Linked DNA regions of Homo sapiens: region 2 is linked to region 1. The links come from fine-mapping of genetic effects on gene expression. Tissue or cell type: cerebellum. Region 1 holds a variant in brackets; the other region holds the start of a gene. All regions are shown on one strand. Distances are between the middles of the regions.

The links. PIP is the estimated chance that this variant, and not a neighbour inherited with it, causes the effect.
Region 2: CLEC2L starts here. The variant in region 1 is fine-mapped to the expression of CLEC2L in cerebellum (GTEx, PIP above 0.99).

The regions. Positions count from the first base shown.
Region 1 is chr7:139,540,740-139,551,367 of GRCh38, forward strand. It overlaps CLEC2L (C-type lectin domain family 2 member L), which reads left to right. Exons shown (of 5, transcript NM_001080511.4): 4 at 1,282-1,382; 5 at 3,492-4,246. The coding sequence ends at 3,603. Among named protein-coding and RNA genes, the nearest start is that of CLEC2L, 22 kb to the left of the region's middle. RefSeq lists enhancers at 896-1,669, 3,587-4,188. The variant C/T (reference allele first, on the strand shown) is at 4,979.
Region 2 is chr7:139,517,907-139,528,534 of GRCh38, forward strand. CLEC2L (C-type lectin domain family 2 member L) reads left to right here and starts at 5,779. Exons shown (of 5, transcript NM_001080511.4): 1 at 5,779-6,211. The coding sequence starts at 6,022.

The DNA of each region.
Region 1 (10,628 bases):
AGTATTATAAACCAGAAGAATTACACATTATAAAGCTGGTGATGTGGTATCCACCTCTAGTACCAGCTACTCAGGAGGCTGAGGCAGGAGGATCACTTGAGCCCAGGAGTTGGGGGCTAGTCTGGGCAACATAGTGAGACCCTAGCTCTACAAAAAGTAAAAAGAAAATTAGCTGGGCATGGTGGAGTGTGCCTGTAGTCCCAGCTACTTAGGGGGCTGAGGCAGGAGGATCACAGGAGTTCGAGGCCAGCCTGGGTAACATAGCAAGACTTTGTCTCTCTTTTTTTTTGAGACAGTCTCACTCTGTCGCCCTGGCTGGAGTACAATGGTGCAATCTCGGCTCACTGCAGCCTCTGCCTCCTGGGTTCAAATGATTCTCGTACCTCATCCTCCTGAGTCGCTGGGACTGCAGCTGTGCACCACCATGCCTGGCTACTTTTTGTATTTTTAGTAGAGACAGGGTTTCACCATGTTGGCCAGGCTGGTCTCGAACTCCTGGCTTCAAGTGATCCACCCGCCTAGGCCTCCCAAAGTGCTGGTATTACAGGTGTGAGCTACCGTGCCCAGCCACAAGACTTGTCTCTTAAGGAAAAAAAAAAAGAATTACAAATTATAAATGCATTGTGAAATGTGAAAACACATTGTCATTTTCTAAAGATCCAAATCAGGACACGGTCTCTCATTTAACATCCAAAACAGTCTTAGCAACAGAAACGTGAAAGAAACACAATTAATGGAGTCTATTGGCCATTTTGGATTTTGAGGTTAACAGTGGTATTAACCAAAATAGAAGATAATCTAAAAATCACTTCTGTTTGCCTTTGATACACAGTATGATATCCCCAGTCTGCAGGGAAAGTCCCAGAAATTTGCAGGTAGGACAACCAACCTGAGCATTGAGATTTGTCCCAGATCATCCAACCAGTGGGCAATCCCCAAGCTTCCTGCAAATCAGGAATGCTGTCCTGCTGAGCCAGGAGGACAAGCCCTGTACAGCCTTCCTGGCCAGTGGCATGCACACACAGCCAGGGTCCCTTTCAAGCTGTCGGAGGCAACTGCTGTGAGGTCAGCCAGCAGCTTGGAGCCGAATTCTGGCAGCGTGACTGCAGAGGATCCTGTAACCTAGCTCCTTACTTGCGGGATTCAGCGAGACAACAGTCACTCTCCTGGCGTCTGTACATCCCGAGAGCCAGTATCTTCCAAGCTGAGGTTTGTCTTGGGATGTGACAGCAGTCAGGAGACCGCATCTGACCCTGAGGTGTCCCTTTTTCCTCGGTGCAGGAATTTATGTTCAAGTTCACGCGGAGGGAGCCCTGGATTGGACTACGCAGAGTTGGGGACGAATTCCACTGGGTCAACGGGGACCCGTTTGATCCGGACACGTGAGCTGAGGCTTCATCTTCTGGCTACCGAGCTTAGACTGAGAAAGGCCTGACTCACCCCCTGGACACAACTCCCGAAGAGAGAAGCCCTTGTTTTGTGCTAGCTAGAGATACTAGTCTCGGGGTCCAGCAGTGTGCGCCAGAGACCCAGCCATGAAAATGTCTGTACTTCTCCCTCTCTCATAAAAGTCCAGCCTGGCTTGGTGGCTCTGCCCTGCAAAGCCATCAGAGCTTCGCGGTGTCCGGCCCAGGGTCTCTCCACCCTTGAGTCCCTGATCTGTGCAGCCTGGCGCTTGTCGGCTCCACTCAGTGTGGCGCAACCACATCCCATTCAGCCAGAACGGGACAGAGAATGGGAGGGAGGGCCCTGGATGGCCTCACCCCATTGGCCAGAACTTAGTCACATGGCCGCACCTGGCCGCAAGGGAGGATGGGAGATGCGCCTCTGTCCCGGGCAGCCTCGTGCCACCTAAGCACTGTAGCTGTGGAAGAAAGGGGATCTGAAGGCAGGCACCTGGGAGTGTTCTAGGTCACATTTTACTGGCGAACGCATCTCTTGATGGACGGAGCGCTGCTGAGGTGGTGGCGTGTGCCGTGGCGGTTTTGTAAGACTCAAGTGGAGTGGATGTGAGTGTGTGATGCCAGGTCTGGTGTGTGGTGTGGGGGTGATGGTCATGGGCGGAGTGGGTGGCAGATGTGTGGCTGTGGCAGTACAGTGGTGACTGTGTGGGGCGTGGGGAAAGGAGTGGTCTAGGCCGAGAGAAATGCAGGGAAGTGTGCAGAGGGAAGTGGGACCCGCAGAACAGACCCTGTGGCTGGAGGAATAGGCTCTGAGGTGCCAGCCGGAGGGCATGGGGTGGGGTGGGGAACACAGCTCCTAACCCGATGATGATGATGATGCGTGAACGTCCCCAAGGCAGGGGCTAAAGCAGAAGGGCATCTGAGACCCTGGGATCCTCCTGGTTGCCAGAGGTGGCCATCAGCTGCCCTCCCACCTGAGGATGGCTTAGGCAGTCACGCCCATGGCAGCCCTGGAGGCAGGGGCATTCATGATGCTTCCCCTCCTCCTCCTTTTCCTTATCTCAAGCACTCTTCATTTTTGCCCTTACTCTGGCCTCAGTGCCCCTTCCTTATCTCACCCCCTTTCCTGTCCCCCTCTCAGGTCTGCTCTCTCAGAGTGGCTGAGGAGGTCTTGCGCTTTGCACCCCTCTCCCTGCTTTTCTGGAAGCTTCTTGCTCTCAGAGCCCTGCAGGCTGGGGTCCGTGGCGTGCTGACCACCTGACAACCAAGGGGCCGTTGGCCACATTTCTCAGACACTGCAGAGGTCCTTTCCCTTGCACTCCTTCTTGGGGTCCTTCCAATGCCCTCTGTTGTGAGGGTCTACCTCCAGCCTTGGCAGGGATCGGAGGTCCGGGTGAACAACTAAGGCTAAGAAGAAACCTCTGAGGCTGGAAAGGGGTGATTTGAGGTAGGGGGGAATCCTCCCACCACACCCATCTGTGTGTGATGTCAATGAGTTCCTGTGCAACCCAGCCTCAGTTAGCCCATATTGGGGTCATTGCAGCCTACCCCTAACCTGTGAGGGGTAGCTGACTTCAGCCAGCTCTGCAGAGCTCCTCCTGTGTGCTCAACTCTGCGCACTGCAGGGAGCCAAGATGAGAGCGCACAGAGCTCACTGCTCAGGAGATGGCTGCTTTGGGGACCTGTGTGGACAGACAGGTAGAGGCCCCAGGGGGCTATGGGAGTGCCCCACAGAGCAGGCAGGGGACTGTGGGGAAGTAGAGTGGGCAGAGAGTGGCCCTGAACTGGGTGCCATGGAGCCTGGGACATGTGAGCCGACCCTGCAAGGACATTGAGAATGGGGAAGTGCATGTGTGTCCAGGAAATGTCTCAGCAGCGTGCCAGGGTGGCTGGAGCTACGGTGCACAGAGTAGGGAGACAATGGGATGCCAAGCTAGAACAGTCTGTTGGCCCAAATGTCCTAGAAGGCAGCTCCAGTGATGAAGTGAGGGAGGGATAGGTCACAGGGCCTCCATGGCCTCCCCTGCCACTGGGTTTTGGGCTGAATGTTCCAGATCATAAACGCCTGGTCTTCTCTCCTGGCCACAGGTTCACCATCGCAGGTCCAGGGGAGTGTGTCTTCGTGGAGCCCACCAGGCTGGTGTCGACGGAGTGTCTGATGACCCGGCCCTGGGTGTGCAGCAAGATGGCCTATACTTGAGGTGGGTGGGGCCAGAGGTGGCCCCGCCCCTAGGCCTGTGGGAGGTGTCTGGTGTCTGCTCAAGACCTGCTTCCAGCGGAGCCGCCTGCCCTCTGCAAGGCGAAGCGGTGGGTGCGTGGCCTCCGCCCCAGGCCCCTCTCCCAGGCCCTGGCGCTCTGAGTCCCTGGTTCCTGGCCTCCTTTGTCTGCAGGCAGGTCGTGTGGCTCAGCAGTTAAATCCCATATGCTAGGTAGTGTAGGCATCTGCCCACCTACACACACACACATGCATAGGTACACGCACGCACAGACGCTGTCCCTTCTGAAGCTCAGTGTCCATCCTGAGCCACCCCACAGATCTCTCTCCGGCCCCCTAGAAGCCCTCTCCTCACTGCAGCCCTGGTGCTCTGGGGAAGGAGGGGCATTGACAGGTGGTTTGACTGTTCACCCAGCAGCCCCGCTTCCCCACTGGTTTCTCTCCTGGCTGCCGGCGGAGGTAGGCTGGGAAAGCTTCCCCCTCACCTAGGCCGGGCCAGCCCCGCCCCGGGCCCCAGAGGTCCCCTGCATCCCCCTTCTTTGCCTTGCCTGGGTTCTCAGGCAGGGCCCCTGCTGTGTCCGTGGTGCTGTTGTATTGGTCACTAACGGAATAAAGAGTTAATATCTCATGTCCAGAGAAGTCTGCCGCCATTTGTTCCAGAGTCAGAGCTCGGGGAGGGGCAGAGAGGGGCACATCTCTGGGTGCCAGTCTGTGGGGGCTACCACAAAATGCACCTGCTCTAGTGCAGCAGATAGCGGTGTGTGAGGATGAAAAAAAAGCACCTTCTGGCCTCAGGACATCGTTTCATGTTGCTAAGCCTTTAAGGTATTCTTACGTGGCTGTTCCAGCTCCTTCATTGCTAGTCACCTCAAGATGACAAACGTTTATTCACACCTACCGCAAGCCAGACACCACACCAGGCATGGGGGATCTCTGGCCTTAATCCCCCAAGAAGCACGCAAGGAGCAGAGGAAACAGTTCAGAAAGTGCTAGAACATTCTGGAACATAGTCAAGGGATGGTTTATTCTGCATCGGGGCAGGATGGAATGAAGTGAACATGAAAATTAGGTGGTGTTCACATTGGGCTGGAAAAGAGTTTGTGAAAGTCTTATGGCCTCTTCCTATCCCCCTTGAGCTGCCTGGGGAGGAAGCAGTCGGGGCATGGGGTTGGCAGGCAATGCCCTCGGGTCTGTGGGGGCTCCATGCTCTCCTCCACACACACTTGAGGCTCCAGCTGTGGAGCCCAGGCCTCTCCAGCCTCCTGATAACCCCGGGCAGATGAGATGTGGGTGGCCTGCCTGGGAGCCCAGTGTGTGCATTTGGGTCCTGGCCCATTTTCAGAAAATAGCTCAGAGAAAC[C/T]GGGTCCTGCTGTGCTCTGCACAGTCCTAGTACTGGTTTTACAGTCTTCAGACAAAACCACCAACTTGGGTTTGTTACATTTTCCGCGTGCTTTCCAGATATTTCATAAAATACAGGTGGTTTATGGTTTTATATTTTGCTGTCACTGGGAAGCCAGTGGGGCACCTGAGTATACAATAAAGTAGTTAAGGGAATTCAGCTGGTGATGGTGGGCCTGTAGGGGTGGCTGTGAGGGGCTGAGGGGCGAGGAAGTGGTCAGCTGCTGCCACTTCTCCGGTGGGAGTCCCACACTCCCACCTGTTCTCAGTTACATATAAGCCCGTGTTTCTCACCAGTATCCACCCCTCAAAGACAGTGAGGTTCAAAAGCCTCAGTACTTTTTGCTTTACATATGGCAGCTCCCTTAATTCTTGCAGAGATGCCCGAGGCAGGGCACACTTCCAAAGGTGAGTAAACTACCTTGCCAGAGTCCTGAGAACCACGTGGCCGAGGGCTTCAGAGCCCTGCTTTCCTCCTGCCCTGGGAGTTCAGGGAAGCAATGTGAGAGGACACAGAATGGGTAACCTGTGCCGTTCGGGTTTTATTTTATTTATTATTTATTTATTTATTTTTCTGAGAAAGACTCTCACTCTGTCGCCCAGGCTGGAGTGCAGTGGCGCAATCTTGGCTCACTGCAACCTCTGCCTCCTGGGTTCAAGTGATTCTCCTGCCTCAGCCTCCCGAGTAGCTGGGACTACAGGTGAGTGCCACCATGCCTGGCTAATTTTTGTATTTTTAGTAGAGACAGGGTTTCACCATGTTGGCCAGGCTGGTCTTGAACTCCTGACCTCAGGTGATCTGCCTGCCTCGGCCTCCCAAGGTGCTGGGATTACAGATGTGAGCCACTGCGTCTGACCTGGGTTTTATTTTTTATTAAATGATCCAAAGCCTCCTGCCTGAAGCTTTTAAAGCCTAGTGGCAAATAAGCTCTTTTAACTTTAGGTTTGTCCTGGGACCATGCAACAATTCTAAATCAGTTTGGCAGAGCATGTGCCCTGATCCAGGGTCATCCATGTTCAGGCCGGGTGCAGTGGCTCATGCCTGTAATCCCAGCACTTTGGGAGGCCAAGGCAGGTGGATCATGAGGTCAGGAGTTTGAGACCAGCCTGACCAACATGGTGAAACCCCGTCTCTACTAAAAATACAAAAATTAGCTGGGCATGGTGGCGGGCGCCTGTAATCCCAGCTACTCAAGAGGCTGAGGCAGAGAATTGCTTGAACCTGGGACACGGAGGTTGCAGTGAGCCGAGATCGCACCACTGCACTCCAGCCTGGGCGACAGAGGGAGACTCTGTCTTAAAAAAAAAAAAGAAAGATTTTTTCAAACTCTTTTCTACCAATGAAGGAAGTACAAGATAAAAACAAAACCCTGTACACCTAACTTCAGAAATGTCAGAAATCCTTCCAAGGGTTACAGACCAGCCAGGCCACCCCTGTCCCCTTTGTGGGCTGAACAACAGGCTCAGTTTGCGTGGCCTTGGCACCCCGTGCTGTGTTCTCAGCAGCTAGAGGCAGCAGCACTGAGGGCAGACATGCTACTTGTTTCTGATCCCCAGAGCTCATGTCTCCTTCAGCAAGGAGGGTCTGTAGGACCGCATCTCCCCAAGTCTCGCTCCTTATCCCCTGGGGCAGATTTTTCCTTTTTGGGGTGACTGGCCTTGGAGCTCAGAGCTGGGGAAGGTGCTCCCTAGGCAAATTTGAGCCCTAATCCCAGTAGGCAGGGGGCTAGTAGAAGCCGGAGCACACACACAGCCACGCACAGAGGTACTTTGTGATGGAGGATACCCAGGAGAGACTTTTTTTTTTATTTAATTTTATTTATTATTTATTATTATTATTATTATCTGAGACGGAGTCTCGCTGTCACCCAGGCTGGAGTGCAGTGGCGTGATCTCGGCTCACTGCAACCTCCGCCTCCCAGGTTCCAGCAATTCTCCTGCCTCAGCCTCCCAAGTAACTGAGATTACAGGCGTACACCACCACGCCCAGCTAATTTTTTGTATTTTTAGTAGAGACAGGGTTTCACCATGTTGGTTAGGCTAGTCTCGAACTCTTGACCTCTTAATCTGCCCGCCTTGTCCTCCCAAAGTGCTGGGATAACAGGCATGAGCCACCGCGCCTGGCCTATTATTTATTTTTTTTGAAAGGGAGTCTTGCTTTGTTGCCCAGGCTGGAGTGCAGTGGTGCGATCTCAGCTCACTGCAACCTCTGCCTCTCGAGTTCAAGTGATTCTCCTTCCTCAGCCTCCTGAGTAGCTGGGATTACAGGCACGTGCCACCATGCCTGGGTAATTTTTGTGTTTTTAGTAGAGATGGGGTTTTGCCATGTTGGCCAGGCTGGTCTCAAACTCCTGACTTCAGGTGATCTGCCTGCCTTGGCCTCCCAAAGTGCTAGGATTACAGGCATAAGCCACTGCTCCCGGCCCTAGGAAAGACTTTTTAAGAAGCTTTACTGGGTGGTAGCATTTGGTGCTGTCCTAGAGGATTAACTAGTATTGTATGCATCTTCCTCATAGCCCTGCCAGGTCAGCATGATCAGCCCAGCTCAGCAGCTATGGGACTTGCCCCATAGTATACAGTTGGGAGGTGGCAAAGCCAGGATTTGTTGGGTGGTGGCAAAGCCAGGATTTGAACCCAGACCCATCCCCACAGGGACCTCGGAAAGCTGCATGTATGGCAGGTGAGCTGCATGTGTCAGGTGAGCTGCATGTGTGGCAGGTGAGCTGCCTGCTGTGCTGGCCAGCCCTGAGGATGGAGCGGCACTGGTGGGTGTGCCAGTGGCTGAGAAGGGGCCACCCTGGGAAAGGACATCTGCATGCCCACGGGCAATTCTTTTTCTGGATGACTTTATCTTCATCACACGATATTCAGTGAATTACCCATGGAAGAGTGGGTGATGTGAAGAATGACTTCTGTCCTTCTCTTCCTTTAAGGCCCAGCTCCAGCCTCCCTGGGATGCCTCCCTGGCAGCAACAGCACTCGTGACCACTCCCTTTGCCCAAAGTCTCTGCCTCTTAAGACTGAGCCTCTTACATGGCCCTGTGTCTGTGTGGCCTTGTCATCTTGTGACTCTTCTCTTTGTGTCATCTGACCATTCCTGTCATCTGACCATTCCTGTCATCTGATTATAAGCCTCTCCATAGTGGCCCCTAGATGGCAGGGACTGTGTGTTTTTGGTCTCTTTTTAGTACACATAGCAGATGCTCAGAAATTGCTGTATATGATAATAAGATTGCCTGTAGTGTCATCTGTGAACTATTTGCTATGGTGGGAGGTAGTGATGGCTGGCTATTGTCCAGAGCCTTGTCTTTTTGGTTTTGGTGGCATGATTTCAGAGGCACAGCCAATGTGAGCTCCTTGCTTATGTTAAATGAGCTCATTCACATTCCCTAAGTGTGCACATGCTGGATGGGTTGAGGGTGGGGTGGCCCAAAAGTCCAGGGGTGCTGAGGGAAAGCTGCCTCTATCTCCCGAGTGTCCTTCACATCACACACTAAGCCCAGTGATGAGGAGACAGCTGGAAGAGGAAGCCAGGCCCGGGAATGTTGTCATCAGTGACCGGGGTTGGTTTTGAAGGGTCCTGCGATCACTGGGAAAATCCTGTCCATATGATATCACTGTATTGTTCTGTGAGAGGTGACCTGGTTTTCAGAAATGCCCACTCTCTGCTGAGTGCTTGCACCAGAAGCAGGTGGAGGGGTATCTGCCTGTTTCCTCTTGGTCTGTGGCCAGCTCCAAACTGTAAGTATGGGATTCAAATTGGGAGCAACAAGAAAGCCCCTTGCCACACCCATCAGAGATTCCCCGCTGTCTGCCACGGCAGCCTGGAGTGGACGCACTATATACAGCTCCCAAGGCCTGCCTGAATCTGGGTCTGGTTCTACCAACAAGCAGTTGTGTAGCTCAGGCCGCCACATGAAACCTCTCTGACCTCAAGCTTTACATCTGTCTATAAGGCTGGAATAATAATTGCCCTGCTGACTTCACAGGGCTTTGAGAATTGTAAATGTTAATATTTCAGGGGCTAGAAATGATCTACCCCATCTCACTATCCATGAGGCCCAGAGCAGTTAAGTAACACATCCTAGGTCATGTCACTCAGGCCGTGTGGCTCTCCTGTTCTGCTTTATATTCATTATTGCACGTGTCATGCTTTGTTCAATTGTTTACTAGTCCATCATTCATGCAGAGGTGTGAGCTCCTAGAGAGCAGGGACCCAGTCTCACACTCCTTTGTAGCCCTAGCACCTGGTACATACAGAAGGTGCTCCATAAATGTGTGTTGAATTAAACTGATCTTGCCTCCGGGTTCAAATCCTCTTTTCTTTACACCATGCTGTCTGTGATCCTAGAAACCCACATTTCCAATTCAGCTGCCCACAAAGTAGGAAACTTGCAGATGGTTTTGAGAAAAAGATAAATGAGATGACCAGCCACTTAGGATATCTATTAGGGTTCTGTGGTTTAGAGGACAGACTCCTTTTCAGCAGATAAATATACAACGAAGACAAAATTGGAACAACAATACCTGGAATAAGAGTAATAATAAATTGGAATAACAATAACAACATTAATTAAGAGCTTCTTATGGACTAGGTATTGTGCAAAGCATTGTGCTAGCTTCTGTAACAATACCCAAATTTCAGAGGCTGGCCCTTCACATCTGTGGGTTCTGCATCCGCGGGTTCAACCAACCATGGATTGAAACTATTTGAAAAACAAACAATAAAAGAACATAATATAGCAATTATTTGCAGTGGCTCATGCCTGTAATCCTAGCACTTTGGGAGGCCAAGACAGGTGGATCACCTGAGGTCAGGAGTTCGAGACGAGCCTGGGCAACATGGTGAGACCCTGTCTCTACTAAAAATATGAAAATTACCTGGGCATGGTAGCACACGCCTGTAACCCCAGCTCCTTGGGAGGCTGAGGCAGGAGAGTTGCTTGAACCCGGGAGGTGGAGGCTGCAGTGAGCCAAGATCGCGCCACTGCACGCCACAGAGTGAGACTCTGTCTCAAAAAAAAAAAAAACAAAAAAACCCACAATTATTTGCATAGTATTTACATTGTATTAGGTATTATAAGTAATCCAGAGATTATTTAAAGTGTACGAGAGGATATGCGTAGGTCATATGTCATTTTATATAAGAGAATTGAGGATCTGCAAATTTTGGTATCTATGGGGGGTCCTGGAGCCAATCCCTCATGGATGCAGAGGGATAACTGTATTTCTTGCTCACACCACAGACTACTGTGGGTCAGTGATAGAAACCATTTGGCTCCAATCAGGAGCCATTCACACAGCATGTGCACTGAGGGATGTGATAGGTATGACTGCCCTGCACTAATATTTGTCACTTTTCTTTGTCTCCAAGCAGATGGAAGGACTGTATTTCCTGACCTCTTGAAGTTAGGTGTCCATGTGACTTGCTTTTACCAAGGAAAAGTGACACATTGTCATTTTTAGGTGGAAGCATTTAAGAACCAATGTCTGCTTCATATTTTCCCTCCCCATTGTAGTGATTGATTTGGAGGTTCCATAAGACTGAAGCATCCTGGGATGCTAAGCCAATATGTAGGGGACAGGTTTCCTGGAGAGTTGCTTGGACTGGT
Region 2 (10,628 bases), 23 kb before region 1:
AAACTTCTGGACTCAAGTGATCCACCTGCCTCAGCCTCCCAAAGTGCTGGGATTACAGGCATGAGCCACTGCGCCCAGCCAGATGGAATTTTCTACCCCCATAATGGCATGGTGACCTGAAGTTACAATTCAGTTGACTTAAAAGAAGGAAAGTACATGTCATTATTTTTTCAACCTCTGAATCTGTGGGCCAGGAGTCACACCTATTCCATAACTCTAAGAAAAGGAGACGGAGTCAGTATCCTGAGACACAGGGGAAGGCAGGACAGAGACATTCAGAGATGGGGACATGCACTTTGTTAGAAAGTAGTAAATAAATAAAAAAAAAAACCCTGCCCTGAAGACCAAGGGAAGACTGGTGCTGGCCAGGCTGCATTTGAAATCTTCCCAGACCTCTACTTAAGCTCACTCTAAATCTGATCAAGTTTCCTGTTGGACCTCCTTGACAGCATGTGACATGGAGGTTCACATGCAGGGGTTCCCTGGGGAATTTTAGGTGTCCGTTATAAGAGTCTAGGAATCTGAAGGGGTTTGAAAGCGGAGGGTTTACTACTTGCTACACCCTCGTGGGACAAAACTGGGTTCTGAAAGGTAAGCAGTATGTCCCCTGCTTGCTCCTGGGAGTACAGCTGGTGCAGCCTTCGTCGCCTGAGCTCAAGGAAGGGCCGTCTTAGAAACTCTACAGTCGCTCAGGGATAGAGGGCAGGTTTTTTTGTTTGTTTGTTTTTGTTTTTGTTTTGTTTTGTTTTGTTTTGATGGAATCTGGCTCTATCTCCCAGGCTGGAGTGCAGTGACATGATCTCCGCTCACTGCAAACTCTGCCTCCCGGGTTCATGCCATTCTCCTGCCTCAGCCTCCCGAGTAGCTGGGACTACAGGCACCCACCACCATGCCCGGCTAATTTTTTGTATTTTTAGTAGAGACGGGGTTTCGCAACGTTGGGCAGGCTGGTCTTGAACGCCTGATCCCAAGTGATCCACCTGCCTCAACCTCCCAAAGTGTTGGGATTACAGGCGTGAGCCACCGCGCCCGGCCTAGGGCGGGGGGTCTTGATGGGTTTTATCCATTTTCATGAGCACCTCCTTCTTGAGGAAGTGGACCCTTTCACAGCCGTAAGGGTCATTGTCTTTTGGGTTCCCCCCAAAACATACCCTGACACAAGGATTTAAGTGCAAGTAATTTATTTCGGAAGTGATCCCAGGAAGCATCAGGAGAGGAGCAGGGAAGCTGACAAGGGCGTGCGGGGACTCTGGGAGGCTTAGATCCTACCTCTGATAGGTCCTGAAGTATTGTGATTGACTGTCGGAAGCCTTCTAAGGTCAGCGCCACTGCCGATGCGTTGGTATTACACCTTTGTTACTCCTTTTATCTTAACCGTTTATTTCAAGAGTTTCTTTGCTGATCTGCTCCCAGACTGGTTTGTACCTGGTACCAAAGTTAATTTTCTTTTTTTTATTTTTTATTTTTTATTTTATTATTTTTTTTTTTATTGATCATTCTTGGGTGTTTCTCGCAGAGGGGGATTTGGCAGGGTCACAGGACAATAGTGGAGGGAAGGTCAGCAGATAAACAAGTGAATAAAGTTCTCTGGTTTTCCTAGGCAGAGGACCCTGCGGCCTTCCGCAGTGTTTGTGTCCCTGGGTACTTGAGATTAGGGAGTGGTGATGACTCTTAACGAGCATGCTGCCTTCAAGCATCTGTTTAACAAAGCACATCTTGCACCGCCCTTAATCCATTTAACCCTGAGTGGACACAGCACATGTTTCAGAGAGCACAGGGTTGGGGGTAAGGTCATAGATCAACAGGATCCCAAGGCAGAAGAATTTTTCTTAGTACAGAACAAAATGAAAAGTCTCCCATGTCTACCTCTTTCTACACAGACACGGCAACCATCTGGCTCTATCTCCCAGGCTGGAGTGCAGTGACATGATCTCCGCTCACTGCAAACTCTGCCTCCCGGGTTCATGCCATTCTCCTGCCTCAGCCTCCCGAGTAGCTGGGACTACAGGCACCCACCACCATGCCCGGCAACCACGATTTCTCAATCTTTTCCCCACCTTTCCCACCTTTCTATTCCACAAAACTGCCATTGTCATCATGGCCCGTTCTCAATGAGCTGTTGGGTACACCTCCCAGACGGGGTGGTGGCCGGGCAGAGGGGCTCCTCACTTCCCAGTAGGGGCGGCCGGGTAGAGGCGCCCCTCACCTCCCGGACGGGGCGGCGGCCGGGCGGGGGGCTGATCCCCCCACCTCCCTCCGGGACGGGGCGGCTGGCCGGGCGGGGGGCTGACCCCCCCATCTCCCTCCCGGACGGGGTGGCTGCCGGGCGGAGACGCTCCTCACTTCTCAGACAGGGCGGTTGCCAGGCAGAGGGTCTCCTCACTTCTCAGACGGGGCGGCCGGGGAGAGACGCTCCTCACATCCCGGACGGGGCGACAGGGCAGAGGCGCTCCCCACATCTCAGACGATGGGCGGCCGGGCAGAGGCGCTCCTCACATCCCAGACGGGGCGGCGGGGCAGAGACGCTCCTCACTTCCTAGATGGGATGGCGGCCGGGAAGAGGCACTCCTCACTTTCCAGACTGGGCAGCCAGGCAGAGAGGCTCCTCACATCCCAGACGATGGGCGGCCAGGCAGAGACGCTCCTCACTTCCCAGACTGGGCAGCCAGGCAGAGAGGCTCCTCACATCCCAGATGATGGGCGGCCAGTCAGAGACGCTCCTCACTTCCCAGACGGGGTGGCAGCCGGGCAGAGGCTGCAATCTCGGCACTTTGGGAGGCCAAGGCAGGCGGCTGGGAGGTGGATGTTGTAGCGAGCCGAGATCACGCCACTGCACTCCAGCCTGGGCACCATTGAGCACTGAGTGAAGGAGACTCCGTCTGCAATCCCGGCACCTCGGGAGGCCGAGGCTGGCGGATCACTCGCGGTTAGGAGCTGGAGACCAGCCCGGCCAACACAGCGAAACCCTGTCTCCACCCAAAAAATACGAAAACCAGTCAGGCGTGGCGGCGCGCCCCTGCAATCGCAGGCACTCGGCAGGCTGAGGCAGGAGAATCAGGCAGGGAGGTTGCAGTGAGCCGAGATGGCAGCAGCACAGTCCAGCTTCGGCTCGGCATCAGAGGGAGACCGTGGAAAGAGGGGAGAGGGAGAGGGAGGGGGAGGGGGAGGGGGAGGGAGAGGGAGAGCCCAAAGTTAATTTTCCTAAAGCATGGTGTGATCATGACCTTTCTCTGCTCAAACACCTTTGATGCTTCCTTGTGCCTACATGAAGTCTGAAGCTTTGGGCCTGGTGTTCCAATGGGGCACTGCCCTAGGAATGGGGGATAGAGCAGTGCCTCTGCCCTCACCCCACAGCTGGCCATCTGGTTGGGGATCAAACAATGACAGTAGGATGTGGCAAGTGCTATGGGAAGAGAGGTGGAGAGTGTTCCAAAGGCCCAAAGGACAGGTGCCACAGTCTGGGATCACAGGAGGCTTAGGAGGCAGGGATTGCTGGTCATGCACATATTCCATTCCCCCCTTCTTCCTAACAGAATCTCTGCATTATTGAGCGTGGCAATGGCTTTAGCTAATTGCCACTATACTCCACAAACTTACTTGAGAAAGAAGTGTCCAGTGGAAGGTAAGTGGAAATCACTGGGGGTTCCAGAAAAACTCTTTAAAGGAGTCTGATTCAACAAGAGGCATGCCCTTTTCCCCTTGGTTCTTCCTCTTTCTGTAATCTGGTGTGCAGGTGTGATGGCTGGAACCACAGTGGCTATAGTGTGACCATGAGGGAATCCTGAAGATGTAGGCTATATACTAAGGATGATGGGAGCAGAATGAGAGGAAGAGCTAGGGTCCCTGATGATCTTGGAGCTCTCAATCCAGCCCTGGGCTGATCACCTCTAGACTTCTTTCAGGTAAAAAAAACACAAAAAACCAAAAAACAAAAAACAAAAACCTTCTTTCTAGTTAAACTCTTACTGGGGTTTTCTGTTGTAGTCTTGTTGAACCTACTCTGAATGAATGCAGTATCCTAGAGACTGTGCAATCAGAAGCATTAGCAGAAATTTGGTAGGCAAACTAGGGTGCATGGGGGCTACAAGGAGGGGTTAGAAGGACCAAGGAGGAGATGTGTTCCAGGCAGAAGGAAGACAGTGTTCAAAGGCCCAGAGGAAAGAGTCAGAATAGTTAGGTGTGTCTAGGGCTGGCAGAGAAGGGGTGGGAGGAGAGGATGCCTTAGGTAGGAGCAGGACTTTGACCATGAGGGACCTTGAGGCCTTGTAAAAAGATGGCCTTAATCCACAGGTAAAGGGACCCCTGAAGGAGTGGTGAGTTTGCACTTTAGGTAGATGCTGCGGGTGTGGAGGGGGAGGGGCTGGATAGGAGGGAGCAAGAGTGGAGGATGGGAGACCCCTTAGAAGGCTGCTGCTGTGGTCGGGCAAGAGAAGGCATTGGCTTGTACTTGGCCAGTGGCTAGAGGGATGGAGTGCAATGCGCAGACTAAGAGTTTAAAAGGGGCCGGGCGGCCGGGCGCGGTGGCTCACGCCTGTAATCCCAGCACTTTGGGAGGCCGAGGCGGGCGGATCACGAGGTCAGGAGATCGAGACCATCCCGGCTAAAACGGTGAAACCCCGTCTCTACTAAAAATACAAAAAAATTAGCCGGGCGTAGTGGCGGGCGCCTGTAGTCCCAGCTACTTGGGAGGCTGAGGCAGGAGAATGGCGTGAACCCGGGAGGCGGAGCTTGCAGTGAGCCGAGATCCCGCCACTGCACTCCAGCCTGGGCGACAGAGCGAGACTCCGTCTCAAAAAAAAAAAAAAAAAAAAAAAGGGGCCGGGCACGGCAGCTCACGCCTGCAATCCTAGAACTTTGGGAGACCCAGGTGGGAGGATCGCTTGAGCCTGGGAGGCCGAGGCTGTAGTGACACTGCACTCCAGCCTGGGCTACAGAACGAGACCCTGTCTCAAAAAATAAAAATAAAAATATTTTAAAAGGGAGAATTCACAAGAGTCAGTGGCCTATTGGATTTGGGGGAGGGAGCAGGAGGAGCTGGGGATGAGGAACTGAAGATGGAGACAGGAACCAGAGGTTGGGGCTGAGAATGGTGGAGGGGGAAGAGGATCAGGGCTGGAGGCGTGGGGCTTCAGGCGACGCGAGGTCAGCTGAGGCAAGGGGCCAGTGAAGGCTCCGGAGGGAGCCCTGGCCTGGGAGTCAGACACCCGCCAAGCACGCACCTGCCTGGCGCCGCCTTCGGAAATGTCCTTGACCTCAAAATTCCACTTCTCAGCCTCACCTGGGGGCATTGTCAGCTAATAATATGTGAAAGTCCCTGGCGCTTAGTAGGTGCTCAATAAATGTTAATTGAATCTGCAACGTCACTTCGCTTGCTCCTTTAGACTCTACTGTCTCTGTGCTCATCGTTCGGACGTTTCTCTCCTTTATCAAGAGTTTGGGGGTCAAGTCACAGCCCCTACCACCCTCTGCTGTGGCTCCAGGGCAGCCGGGAAGAAAGGCGCTCATCTTCCCTGAGCCTCCCTGCACTGTCCCCGCGAACTTTATTCCCATTTTCACAGATGGTGAGCAGGCGGCTGGGGAGATGGAGCTGAGTTAGAACCAGGTCTCCCGGCTCCAAGACTGCGCTCCCAGCTCGACAGCATCCAGCCTCCAGCCCAGGTGGCGGGGTCGGGGAGCCGGCTGTCCCCGCTCCTCCGCGCCTCCTCCCTCTCCGCCCCTGCCCCGCCCCGCCCGGGTCCACGGCTCCCGGCTCCCGCGCGCCGCCTCGCGCTCCTCCCCAGCCCGGCTGTGCGTGGAGGCTGCGGCTCGGCGGGGCAGGCGCTGAGCGCACCGCGGCGGCACCCGGCGCAGAGGCTCCAGCGCGGGGAGCCGGGCTCAGCCCCGGCCTGCCAGCGCCGCGGTCCTAGCCCACCCGAGGCCGGCCTGGGGGGCCCGCAGGGCGCGCGGAGCGCCGAGTGCGCGTCGGGCTGGGCCCCGCACCCCGGTGCAGGAGCGCGGGCGCGGCGCGGCGGAGCGCCCCGCATGGAGCCGGCCCGGGAGCCCCCCTCGCGGGCCCGGCCGCCGCCGCCCCTCGCCGCGCGCCCCGCGCCCGCCCCCGCCGCCCCCAGGCCGCGTTCGCCCGCAGAGGCTGAGGCCCGCGGCCCCGAGGGGCTGCTGCGGCGATCCGGGTCGGGCTACGAGGGCAGCACCAGCTGGAAGGCGGCCTTGGAGGGTAAGCGCGGAGCGGCCTCCCTCTCCTGGCCCAGGGACCCCTGCCCAGGCCCGACCCGCGACCCGGAGGCGGTCAGAGTCACCTTGGCCGCTGTCCCGGAGGGGAGCGCTGGGAGCGCGGCGCCGGGACGCGGCGGAGTCATTCATTTCAGGGCGGCCAGACGCCGGTTCGTGGGGTGGGGTGGGAGGGAACCGGGGGCCACCGCGAGTCACAGCCTCGACCCCGCCTCTGCTGCGACTCCCTCTCTGACCTTGGAGCGGGCTTCACGCTCTGAGCCTTCGTCTCCTCACGCATGAAGGGGACAAACACTGCCTGACACCCACCAGACAGGCGTGTTGAGAGGGTGGCGGAATCTGTGGTCGTGAACACGCTTCGAGTAAAGTAAGAAAGCTGGAGACCCCAGAGGTGGTGCCCGCCCCTGTGAGAGCCGCGGGGACCCCGTGGTGGTGGGGCATGTGGGGAGGGCAGGGCAGGGCAGGGGTGGAGAATCCAGGAGAGGCTCTTCCTTGCAAGGTCAGGGGTCACACCTACTCCTCCATCAGACTGCCTCAGGGAGGGACCCCTGGCCTGCCTCCGGGGCAGTAACCCAAGTAGAGAATTGATTTCAAGTTCATGAGCTCTTTAAGGAAACTTGTATTAGCTACCGCCGGCGGCGTGTGGTGTGGGAGATGCAGGAGTTGGTGAGAGGGTGGCTGGCCCTTTGGGTGCTTCTCAGGGTGCTCCTGGCACCCTGAATCCAAGGACAAGGAGGACCTGGGCAGCATTAACTAGGGAAGCCTGGAGCCTGGATCACCCATCCTTAGGGAGGCAGTGTCAGAAAAGGAGGGCTTCCCAGGAGTAGGTGACCTCTTAGCAGGCGTGGAGACAGAGGGGAAGGTGTTCCAGACCCAGAGCATGACGTATCCCAGGCCAGGTGGTCAGAGCTACTCTGTGCCACGTGGGAACTGAGCCCTGGAGTACTGAGATGGGGCAGGGTGGAGAGAGACGGGCCTGAAGGACCCAGACGGTGAAGGGCCAGCCAGGCCTTGCCCAGGAGCTTGGACTTTGTTCTGAAGGGGCTACTGAGGGGTGGAGATGGTGGGCTTGCCCTTGGAAGACTGGTGGTGGCCCAGAGGGGTGGGACCCAGGCTCGAGGTCAGGGAGGGGGTGGGGCAGTGGACCAGGAGGGACATAACCAGCAGCTGGGCCAAGGCAGGTCATGGGGCTGCTGAGGATGGCGAGGTGGGGATGGTAATGCCAGCCTTCTGCACAAAGGCTATGGGCCAGGGGACGTGCACTGTCCGAGGAAGGGCTGTGCAGACTCTGAAGCTGGACCACCAGACAGTGGCAGGGACAGAGGAGGCGAAGATGTTGCGTCACCAAGGAGAAGAGCTGTAGCAGAGCTGTGGGTTGTGAAGAGTTGTGTGGAATGGATGGAGGTGGTCAGACACCCCCCCGTGACGCTGTCTCCGGCTTTACTGTTGGAGTGGCCCTGTGTTCCCACGCTTCACTCCTGCCAAAGCTATTTCTTGAAGTTGTTCCCTCCTCTTGCCTGTATTTCTTCATTCATTTATTCGTCAGCATTTCTGAAGGGTCTGCCCTAACCTTAACCCCAGCCCCCATGGTAGGGCTGCTTCTGGGCTGCTGTGGCCCTTTAATGCCTCCTGCTTGCTGTTCCTGTCCACCTCCTGCCCTGACTTCCACCCCCTTGTGCTTCCTCCTCCCCACTGTGGCTGGGCTGCCCACCTGCCAGTCAGGCTGCAGAACAGACCACACACCAAGCTGGAAGGTCACCCAGAGGCTGCCTGGGGCCCTGAGTCAAGCCCACTCCCATGCTTAGCATCTTCCTGTGGTCCAGCCTTGCCTCACCATGGCCCCCTGCCTTGCCTTGCTCTCTGACTCATGCCACCTGCAGTCCCCTCCCCTTCCTTCCCCTGGTCTCCCCAGGAGCAGTCCCACTCCTGATGGCCTGTGGTCCTTGGGTACTCAGCATCTTGGGCCTACTGACTTTTCCCACAGGAGTTTTAGAATCTGGAGTCTGAGTCTGGCCAGGGGCCTCCCTTCTGCCAGTTCTCTGAAGGTCTTCTTGGGTGCCCCCAAGCTCCTCTCTTCTGAGAGGAGCCTGGGAAAGGAGCCTGAGAGGAGACAGAGGGAAAGGTGTCCCAGACCCAGAGCACGATGTGTTCTGGGCCAGGTGGCCAGAGCTAGTTTGTCCCATGTAGGAACTGAGCCCTGGAGTACTGGGGTGGGGCAGGGTAGAGAGAGACGGGTCTGGCGGACCCAGACGGAAGGAGAGGTCCTCTTCTGGAGGACCCAGAAGAAAGGAGCTCATGGAGCAGGGCTGCTCCTCTCCAGGGTGCTGCTGCATTGGCCCAGTGCTGGCTTTTGTATTTGTCTCCATCATGCATTCATTCTTTCTGCAACATCCGGGTACCATTCTGGGCCCTGGGCACATTTATGTTCTCTCAGAGGTTCCAGGACAGGGACTGAGGCAGTGTGGGGAGGTGCAGGAAGCAGAGCATCTGGTAAAGCTGGGGCAGAGCCTTCCATTGCCACAGGCTGGCGGGCTTTCCAACTTCCTGGACCATTTGCTTCCTTATCTGCCAAGTCAGGTCATGATTTCTACCTCTCAGGTAGACAGAGGCCCTGGAGTGTGGGCTGTGTGTATGGTGACTCCTCTTCCCAGCTGCCTGGACTTGGCCTCCTGCAGCCCCTGCTGGGGGAGCCCAGGCCTAACTGCAACACTTGGACTTCTGGTCAGCCTCCCTTGATTCTGCTTCCCACCCCAAACCTGAGTCCAGAGTTCACGTAATGAAACACTGTCAATGGGAGGAGGGATCTGTCCTTTGGGGACCCAGGGTTATGCTGCCCCTGCTTAGCCAAGCACTTGTCTTGAGAGAAATGGGACATTTTCTGACTTGACTGAGCTGAACCCTCCAAGAAGTCTCTGCTCCTTTATCACCATGTGCCCAATGCACATCAAGCACCTGCTACGTGCTGGAGCCTTGCTGGGGCTTTCATAGTCATCATCTCAGTCCTCACCTCTCCCCTTGCAGGGGGGCTGGTGAGTGTTCTGTTTCATAGATGAGGGAGCCGAGACTGAGAGCCTGAGTGTCTTGCCCAAGGACATCCTTGGTTGCTATCACATGAAAGCCCTGTTGTGAAGGCTCTGACCCCTTCCTGCATGGCCAAGGACGTCAGCCTTGGTGAAGCTAGCTGGGGATCATCAAATTCCCACACACACGCTCTCCTCCCCCTGCTCCCCAGACAACCCTGCCACCTCCAGCACTGACGTTTCCCTCCTTATGGGTTAAATGAGTCAGAGAGCTTCTTAAAGCAGAAAGCTGGGATTAGAGCCCAGGTCTTTAAGACTTTTCTGAGATGAATAACTAGCTTTATAAACAGGAAGCCAAACAGAAGTTGCCTTAATCAAGTCTTTTCTCTCGCTGTAGATATGAACCTTTCCTTCCAGCCTGGGGTATAAGGCTAGAAAAGGTGACCCGGAGAGCCCGCCTGGGTTCTGGGAACAAGAGAAGTGATTCGAGATGGGCATATTTCTGGCATTGAGAGTGGCAGTGGGGCAGAGTGGCCTGGGGGTATGGGAGAGGGGACAGAGTGAGCCTGCGTGCCTCAGCCTATAGATTTTTTAGTGCTCACCGATTCTGAATTTTTAATGTTGAAAGTTTCTTGATTAGGCATAAACCCACAACTTCCTGATCAAAACCACACACATGCTTTTAGCCTCTTAAAAATTTAAAAATTACCAAACTTCACATTTGGTAGTTTTTAACAGTCAAGATTATGCTTGCCAGGCTGTGTCCCCGATGACTTAGAGACAGCAGCATGGGCCTTTTTTGGGATATGAGTGTGAGGATGATGGGAGCTTTGTCTGGGCCTGGGAGTCAGGTTTTTTCAGTTGTTCCTTCTAAAATTAGGTGAAATCACACACATTTAGAAACCTAAATAAACTACACCCTTATACGCCATCTAATATGGGCCATGGCATAGTAGGGAACAAGTAATGAGTTAGACATTTGTTAGAAGTTGAATTGTGTCCCTACCAAAAAAGAGATATTGGAGTCTTAACCTCTGGTACCTCTGAATGTGACTGCATATGGAAATACAGTCTGGCAGATTATTTGTAGTTAAGATGAGGTCAGACTGGAGTAGAGTGGGCCCTAATCCCATATGAACTGGCATCCTTATAAGAAGATGGTCACATGAAGACAAAGGCACTGTATTAGTCCGTTCTCACACTGCTAATAAAGACATACCCAAGACTGGGTAATTTATAAAGGAAAGAGGTTTAATGGACTTACAGTTCCACATGGCTGGGGAGGCTTCACAATCATGAAGGAAGGTGAAGGAGGAGCAAAGACACGTCTTACATGGTGGCAGGCAAGAGAGTGTGTGCAGAGGAACTGCCCTTTATAAAACC